Linked DNA regions of Homo sapiens. The protein of the gene in region 2 interacts with the protein of the main gene of each other region in a pairwise test. Each region holds a gene or a part of one and is shown on either strand. Other genes may lie near its edges.

The links. Proteins that work in one complex are often made in the same cells at the same time.
Region 1: the proteins of TNS4 (region 2) and RPAIN interact in a two-hybrid assay, tested with the Homo sapiens proteins (one large-scale study listed by BioGRID and IntAct).

Annotation. Positions count from the first base shown.
Region 1 is NC_000017.11:5,423,107-5,426,892, reverse strand, and holds part of RPAIN (RPA-interacting protein), read right to left. Parts: intron 923-3,786; coding exon 811-922; intron 757-810; coding exon of another isoform or gene 686-756; exon of another isoform or gene 664-685; intron 658-663; coding exon 594-657; intron 1-593. UniProt on the Homo sapiens protein: Mediates the import of RPA complex into the nucleus, possibly via some interaction with importin beta.
Region 2 is NC_000017.11:40,484,432-40,488,217, reverse strand, and holds part of TNS4 (tensin-4 precursor), read left to right. Parts: intron 1-757; coding exon 758-1,182; intron 1,183-3,210; coding exon 3,211-3,297; intron 3,298-3,608; coding exon 3,609-3,734; intron 3,735-3,786. UniProt on the Homo sapiens protein: Promotes EGF-induced cell migration by displacing tensin TNS3 from the cytoplasmic tail of integrin ITGB1 which results in dissociation of TNS3 from focal adhesions, disassembly of actin stress fibers and initiation of cell migration.

The DNA.
Region 1 (3,786 bases), about 35 Mb from region 2:
AAGTGGGTGGATCACGAAGTCAGGAGTTCGAGACCAGCCTGGCCAAGATGGTGAAAACCCATCTCTACTAAAAATAAAAAAAAAATTAGCCGGGCGTGGTGGCAGGCACCTGTAATCCCAGCTACTTGGGAGGCTGAGGCAGGAGAATGACTTGAACCCGCAAGGCAGAGGTTGCAGTGAGCCTAAATCACGCCACTGTACTCCAGCCTGGGCAACAGAGTGAGACTCCGTCTCAAAAAAAAAAAAAAAAAAATTACTGAAGCTTAAATTCTGAATTAGGTATGTCTTCATATATAGAAAATTTTTATGAAACGTCAGATACAGGCGTTACCAATCCCAAGCTGAGGTCTCCATAAAAACGTTAAGCGGTGATGGCTCTCCAGGGCCCTAAAGGCTCTGATGTGTACTGTTTGCCAATTTTCATGCCATAGATATTCTCACCATGGCTGATTTGAAGCTACCAATGTGACACCACTGAACATAAAACTGGGAAGAAATATGCACAATGGGCTCCAAGTCAGCACTGGAGGATCTTCAAGAAAGTAGATCCATGTGGGAAGAAGTATCATGAAATCTGTGTGTGGAACACTCACATGAGATGGGATGGACAGGCCACACTGACACACCACCACACCGCTTGTGATTCTCAGGTTGTACCTAGAAGCAGAATTAGGATCCCAGAGCATCATGGCCACCAGACCTGGATCTCCAAACCTTGAATTTCAGGCAACAAATCTGGGGGGAGATTCCACTCACCTTGGAGTGGGGAATGGGAACGAATAATGCTGAAAAGGTTTTAAAAACTCTTACTTTGTACATACAGGACAGATGAGTGGGTTTGCCTCCCACTCAGCCAGCATGATGCTGAGACACTTTTCATCAAACTGCAAGCTCTTCTCATACTCGCTGATGATGGACTGCTCTGCAAGGCAAAGGCAGTTGGAGGGCTTCACCATGCTTCAGCTGGCCCTGTATTTAATTCTAAACTTCACTGTCAAAGGCTTCCTTCACACGAGGGAAAGATTTGGGCAAGACCACAATACCAATGACTGGTTTTTATGCTCTCTCAGGCTGGCTTCATCTTGCTGGATTCCTCTCCCTCCTCTCTGTCCCCTTTTTGTGAGCACAAGAGGTGAAGTAGGCTAAGGGCCGAGGAGACAATTTTCACACACATCTCCAGAGGCCATAGGAGCACAGATACAGAATGTCAGGGTCCCACAGGCAACTAAATAAAGTTGACAAAGAGAACTGATTGCTGGCCGGGCACGGTGACTCACACCTGTAATCCCAACACTTTGGGAGGCTGAGGCAGGCAGATCACTCGAGGTCAGGAGTTCGAAACCAGCCTGGCCAACATGGTGAAACCCATCTCTACTAACAAACACAAAAAATTAGCCAGGCATGTGGCGCACGTCTATAATCCCAGCTACTCGGGAGGCTGAGGCAGAAGAATCACTTGAACCCAGGAGGCGGAGGTTGCAGTGATCCGAGATTGCGCCACTGCACTCCAGCCTGAGTGACAGAGCGAGACTCTGTGTCAAAAAAAAAAAAAAGAGAGAACTGATTTCTGATGCCAGGACGACCCTGCTGATTCCACATACTTGGAATCTGTGTTGTTCAGAATCTGTGTGCTCATTCATTCAGCAAACATACAACAGTACCTAGTATCTGCTAGTCACAGGGGCACAAAGATGAAAAAGACTGTCATTGTTGAGCTCACAGTCTAGACATTAGGGAAGGGGTCAAAAAACTACAGTCACGCTTATTTGTTTATGTAGTGTCTATAACTGCTTTTCCACTAGAACTGCAGAGCTGAGAAATTGTGCCAGAGACCACATGGTCTGTGAAGTCTAAAGTATTTGCTATCTGGCTCTTCACAAAAAGTCTGCCAACTTCTGCTTTAGAATGTTCCTTATGGCTGAGTACAGCACAACACAGTAAATCCTTGTCACTTCAGACTTATTAGTTAAGTATGCCCCAAAATAAAACATTTGGTCAGGCTTATGTTTCACCACTAAGATAGGTTTTGTAGGTGGGGGAAGGGAAAATCAATAAAAAAAGATGATAACTTAAGGAATTTACAGTCTAACCAGAGTCGACAGCAACAGTCATTAACAACTAACACTTGCATGGCACTTATGTGTCAAATGCTATTTTAAATTCCTTACATATATTAACTTCTTCACTATTATTATCCTTATTTCAAAGGTGAAGAAACTGAGGCACGGGGAAATTAAGTGCTTTGGTCGGTGCCACACAAATTAAAGTAGTAAAGCCAAGTGAATGTTAGAGGTATGACTCAAGAGCTTGTGCTCTTGCCTCACCATAATAATAGCTGTTGATTATTGAAAGCTCTCTATATGCCAGACAATGCACTAAGTCTTCTACACACGTTATTTAAGCCTTACAACAAATTTATAGGGTATTCTCTCCATTTTATAGGTCATAAAAATGAAGCCTAAGGCTGGGGGCCATGCCTCATGTCTGTAATCCCAACACTTTGGGAGGCTGAAGTAGGAGGATGGTTTGAGTCCAGCTGTTTGAGACCAGCCTAGGCAACATAGTGAGACCCTGCCTCTACAAAAAAATTTAAAAAATTAGGCTAGGCATTTTGGCTCATGCCTGTAATCTCAAAACTTTAGGAGGCTGAGGTGGGGGGATCACTTGAGACCAGGGAGGAGTTCGAGACCAGCCTGGGCAACACAGTGAGACCCTGTCTCTACAAAAAAATAAAAAAATTAGCTCGGTATGGTGGTGCACACTTGCGGTCCCAGCTACTCGGGAGGCTGAGATGAGAGGATTGGTTGAGCCTAGGAGGATGAAGCCACAGTGAGCCATGATTACATCACTGCACTCCAGCCTGGGCAACAGAGCAAGAACCTATCTCAAAAAAAAAAAAAATACATAAATAAAATAATTTTTTGTCTTGTTTTTATCATCTTTAGCTAAAAAAAAAAAATTAATAAAAAAAAATTAGCCAGGGGTGGTGGCACACGCCTATGATCCCAGCTATTCAGAAGGCTGAGGTGGGAAGATCGCTTAAGCCCAGGAGGTCAAGGCTGCAGTGGGCCGTGATCACGCCACTGCATTCCAGCCTGGGCAGAGACCCTGTCTCAAAAAAAACAAAAACAAAAACCAAACAAGGCCTAATCAAATCAGGGCTACATGGAATAAATGACTTAACTATATAAGGTACAAAATTATGCTCTCTACACCATGCTATGGACACCTCCCTCAAGGAGTGGATGCTCACAGGCCCTGGGGAGTTAATAGAGAATGTGGCACTTAAAATGAATAGGGCAAGGGATCAGACCATGCACTATCACTGTATCCTGTAAAATGGCAGGTTTACTTTTTTTTATTTTATTTTTTAAAGTGACAGGGTCTCCCTCTGTCAGCCAGGCTGGAGTGAGGTGGTAAAATTATAGCTCACTGTAACCTTAAACTCTTGGGTTCAAGTGATCCTCCTGCCTAAGCCTTCTGGCTGAGGGAGGCTACAAGTATTTGCTACCACACCCAGATAATTTTTTTTTTTTTTTTTTTACTTCTGTAGAGACAGGATCTTGTTATGTTGCCCATGCTGGTCTTGAACTGGCCTCAAGCAATACTCCTGCCTCAGCCTCTCAAAATGCTGGGATTACAGGCATAAGCCACCACCCTCAGTGAACTATTAACCCATTAATAGAGAGGCAGGATGGTAGAAGAAACATGGGAACTGGATTCATACAACTGATTTTGCTTCCCATCTCCTCCACTTACTAGCTGTATGACCTGCACGAGAACACC
Region 2 (3,786 bases):
TAGAATTGGGGGGCCTGAGATGAACTATTTAGGAATAAAAAGGTTCCTTCCTCTGTTGCTGGCAAAACCTAGCAAAGGAGTGAGGCAGCCCTGCCTGGGAATCACAATCATCCCAGCTCAGTTCTCTATAGACCTCACAGCAGAACTGCAGGCACATGCGCACCCATTCTGCCCCAGGAAGACCGAACCACAGGACTCTGCTTCCCACTCCACCTCCAAAGCCACTGGCCAAGGCAGTCCCTGGCACAGAGGCTGGGGATTCCACAGCCATGCCCACTGGCACAGGCCCCTGAGCTCAGGAAGAAGTCTGGCTGGATGTGAAGCTGGCCTTCTCCTGCAGCTGGGGAGTTCCCTCTGCATCAGCCACGGTGTGGTCCAGCGTAGGTTCAGCCCATCTGCAGGGCTCCTGGGAGTCATGGGGGCCTGAAGGGATCCTGATCCGACAGCTCAGTCAGAACGGCCTGGCTGGGAAGGCAGACGGAATGTGGGCCAGCCTATGCCCAAAGCCTGCAGGGGTCAGCTCATTGGCTACTTTAAGTGACCAAAGACCCTACCATCCAAGGACATTTCTGTATCCTTACCATCCCTTGAGGATTAGGTGGGCATGCACTTTGCTGTGGGCTGTAGGGGGTGGGGTATGCAGTGTTCTATTTGGCCTTTAAAGCCATGGGAACCCAGATCACCAGATCCGGAGCCTGACTCTAGCCCCTGAGCCACCTGTTGCCCTAACACCCTGTCTGACTCTCTCCCGCTGCAGCAGCCAGTCCCTCCTGCACTCCAGCAACTCCAGCCATCAGTCATCTTCCAGATCCTTGGAAAGTCCAGCCAACTCTTCCTCCAGCCTCCACAGCCTTGGCTCAGTGTCCCTGTGTACAAGACCCAGTGACTTCCAGGCTCCCAGAAACCCCACCCTAACCATGGGCCAACCCAGAACACCCCACTCTCCACCACTGGCCAAAGAACATGCCAGCAGCTGCCCCCCATCCATCACCAACTCCATGGTGGACATACCCATTGTGCTGATCAACGGCTGCCCAGAACCAGGGTCTTCTCCACCCCAGCGGACCCCAGGACACCAGAACTCCGTTCAACCTGGAGCTGCTTCTCCCAGCAACCCCTGTCCAGCCACCAGGAGCAACAGCCAGACCCTGTCAGATGCCCCCTTTACCACATGCCCAGAGGGTACGTCGTAAACCAATATTTGAAGCAATGTAAGATTTGGGGAATAGACAAAGTGCCAGTGGGTTTCTGCAACAGCCAGTCAACACATTTATTGAGCAACTATTGTGTGTCTGGCACTATGCCAGGTAGTGAGGACACACAGAGGGAAACAGTTTAGAAAGAGACAAAAACAAATCATCACGGTAGGGTAGGATAAACGCGGAGGTAAAGAGATATTCTCAATCATATTGGCCAAAGCTGAAGGAATGATTCTTTCAGTCTGGAGAACAGAGGAAGCGACATCCGAGCTGGATCTGGGAAATGGATCAGAAGTTTGTGGCCAGAGAAGGAGAGGAAAGGCATTCCCAGCAGAGAAAGCAGGGGGTCCACAGTCATGAAGGTGTGGAAGCGCATGGCATGTTCAGGAAATGCCGGAATGTTGGGTGCAGGTTCAAGTCATTGAGAGTAATTTGAAACCAGATTGTGAAAGGCCTTAAATGCCAAGCTAAAAAAAAAAAAAAAAATGGAATTTGCCTTTTAAGCAATAGGGTACCATCAGAGAGCCTCCTCACACAGGAGAGTGATGGGGTCAGAGGTGCTCGCTCAATGGATCACCCTGGCAGCTCAACGGATAGCAGGGTCCTGAACCGGGATAGGGCAGTGGGAGTGGAGGAGAGAGGACAGAACCAGGCGACCCTCAGGATGTGCTTGATGACTAACTCAAGGAGAGCAAGAGGGCGAGTCAGTTCTGACTCTGACGTTCGCAGATGATGAGAACACAGAGGGGGTGGATGGGGTAATAGAGACAATGCATTCCAGTTCAGACAGCCGAAAACCACAAAACAGCAAACACCCTCCTTCCCGGAGTCTGAGATCACAGGCGTCCAAGAAGAACAAACCCAAGCAGTAAACCCAGAAGCTAAGCTCTAGCACCCTGTGGATGCCTCTCCCATGAGCAGAGTCCCCTGCCAACCCCCTGTTCCCCCTCCCTCGGCCATCGGGGGGCTTCTCAGCCCCCACTTGGCCATGACGCTCACAGGCATCAAGGCGACTCCAGAGGGGGTGGGGGTGGAATGTTTACTATAGCCCACTGCTCACTCCCACTCACGAAGCCATGTGGAGGCAAGCAGGAGAAAATGACACTTCTGGCGTGCCTTTGCATCTGCCCTGATCGCTTTCCTAGGACAAATCATTTGCAGATTTTAGTACTTTTTTTGAATGAGTTACTTGAGAGTAAGTGGTCACAACACTCCTTTTCAAGCCGCCAAGGTTGACAGCTACTGCTCTCTGCCTTAGGGACCCAGGGAAATGGCCATTTTGGCATCCCAAAGCGCACATTTACTTAGCCTAGTGATATTCCCATCCTGCTTTGGTCCCATAATATCACCAACTATACCCCCAGATCTTATCAAATTCTGCAAAATATTCCTAAAACAAAATTCATTTTAATTCCATAGACTACTAGAACATTAAAGACCCTCAGAAGCTGTTTAGTCCACTTGGTCCCCTCTGAGCTTCAGTTATCCCATATCAGAGTCAAGATCCAGGCTCCCGCCTCCCAGGGGCATGTTTTTCTGCCCAGATCTGCTATTTTCCTCTCCTTCACGTTTTCTGCCATTTTCTTTTCCAAGCTGAATATTCCCGTAAGGAATTCTTAGGATTATGAAGACGAAGGAGAATGTAATATCAAACATGATGCATTTGAGAATTCCTTGTTTATCTCTTATTTCAGTCCTCACCAGGGGACTCAACAGTAGATTTAAGAAACCATTTCTCCTTAAACTGAGGTTGTATCTATTCATTCCTTATTCATTACCAAGGATACAAGGGCACTTCTGAGTTCTAGATGCACCAAACCCTGGCATCCTTCTGTTTGATTTTCCCTCATCGTAGGCAGTTTGGAGATACAATGGGGTTAGGGTCTGGGATGGTGGTTGAATGAAACCTTGGGGCAATAGAGTAGGGAAGGGTCTCCAGCCTTCTCTGGTGAACATCCCTCAGCTCCCGTCTGTCCAGCCTACAGGGTCCCCCTTCTCTGTCTGTCTCCAGGTCCCGCCAGGGACATGCAGCCCACCATGAAGTTCGTGATGGACACATCTAAATACTGGTTTAAGCCAAACATCACCCGAGAGCAAGGTAAAAGGAAGCACGAGTGACCCCAGAATAGGGTCTGGGTCTTGCACTTTGCATCAGGCAGGGCCCTGGGTTACAGTTAAGGAATGGCAAATAGTGGGTCCTGGGAAGCGGGGGAGGGGGATGTCCTGCTGACCTCATGACCTCCCGAGGAAGTAGGAACCACAGCAAGAATGGTGGAGATTTGACAGTACAAAGGACTTCCTGGGGACAAAAGGTGACTCTGTAACATCTGCTCTGTGAAGACCCTACGGGGCTGGGGACAGGGTGTCCAGGTGGGGCGGTGTCCATCTCTGACTCAAGGATTGTTCCAGCAATCGAGCTGCTGAGGAAGGAGGAGCCAGGGGCTTTTGTCATAAGGGACAGCTCTTCATACCGAGGCTCCTTCGGCCTGGCCCTGAAGGTGCAGGAGGTTCCCGCGTCTGCTCAGAGTCGACCAGGTATGCGTCTGTCTCTGTGCTCACTCAAGGCCTCACTGAGGCAGCGGGGTGT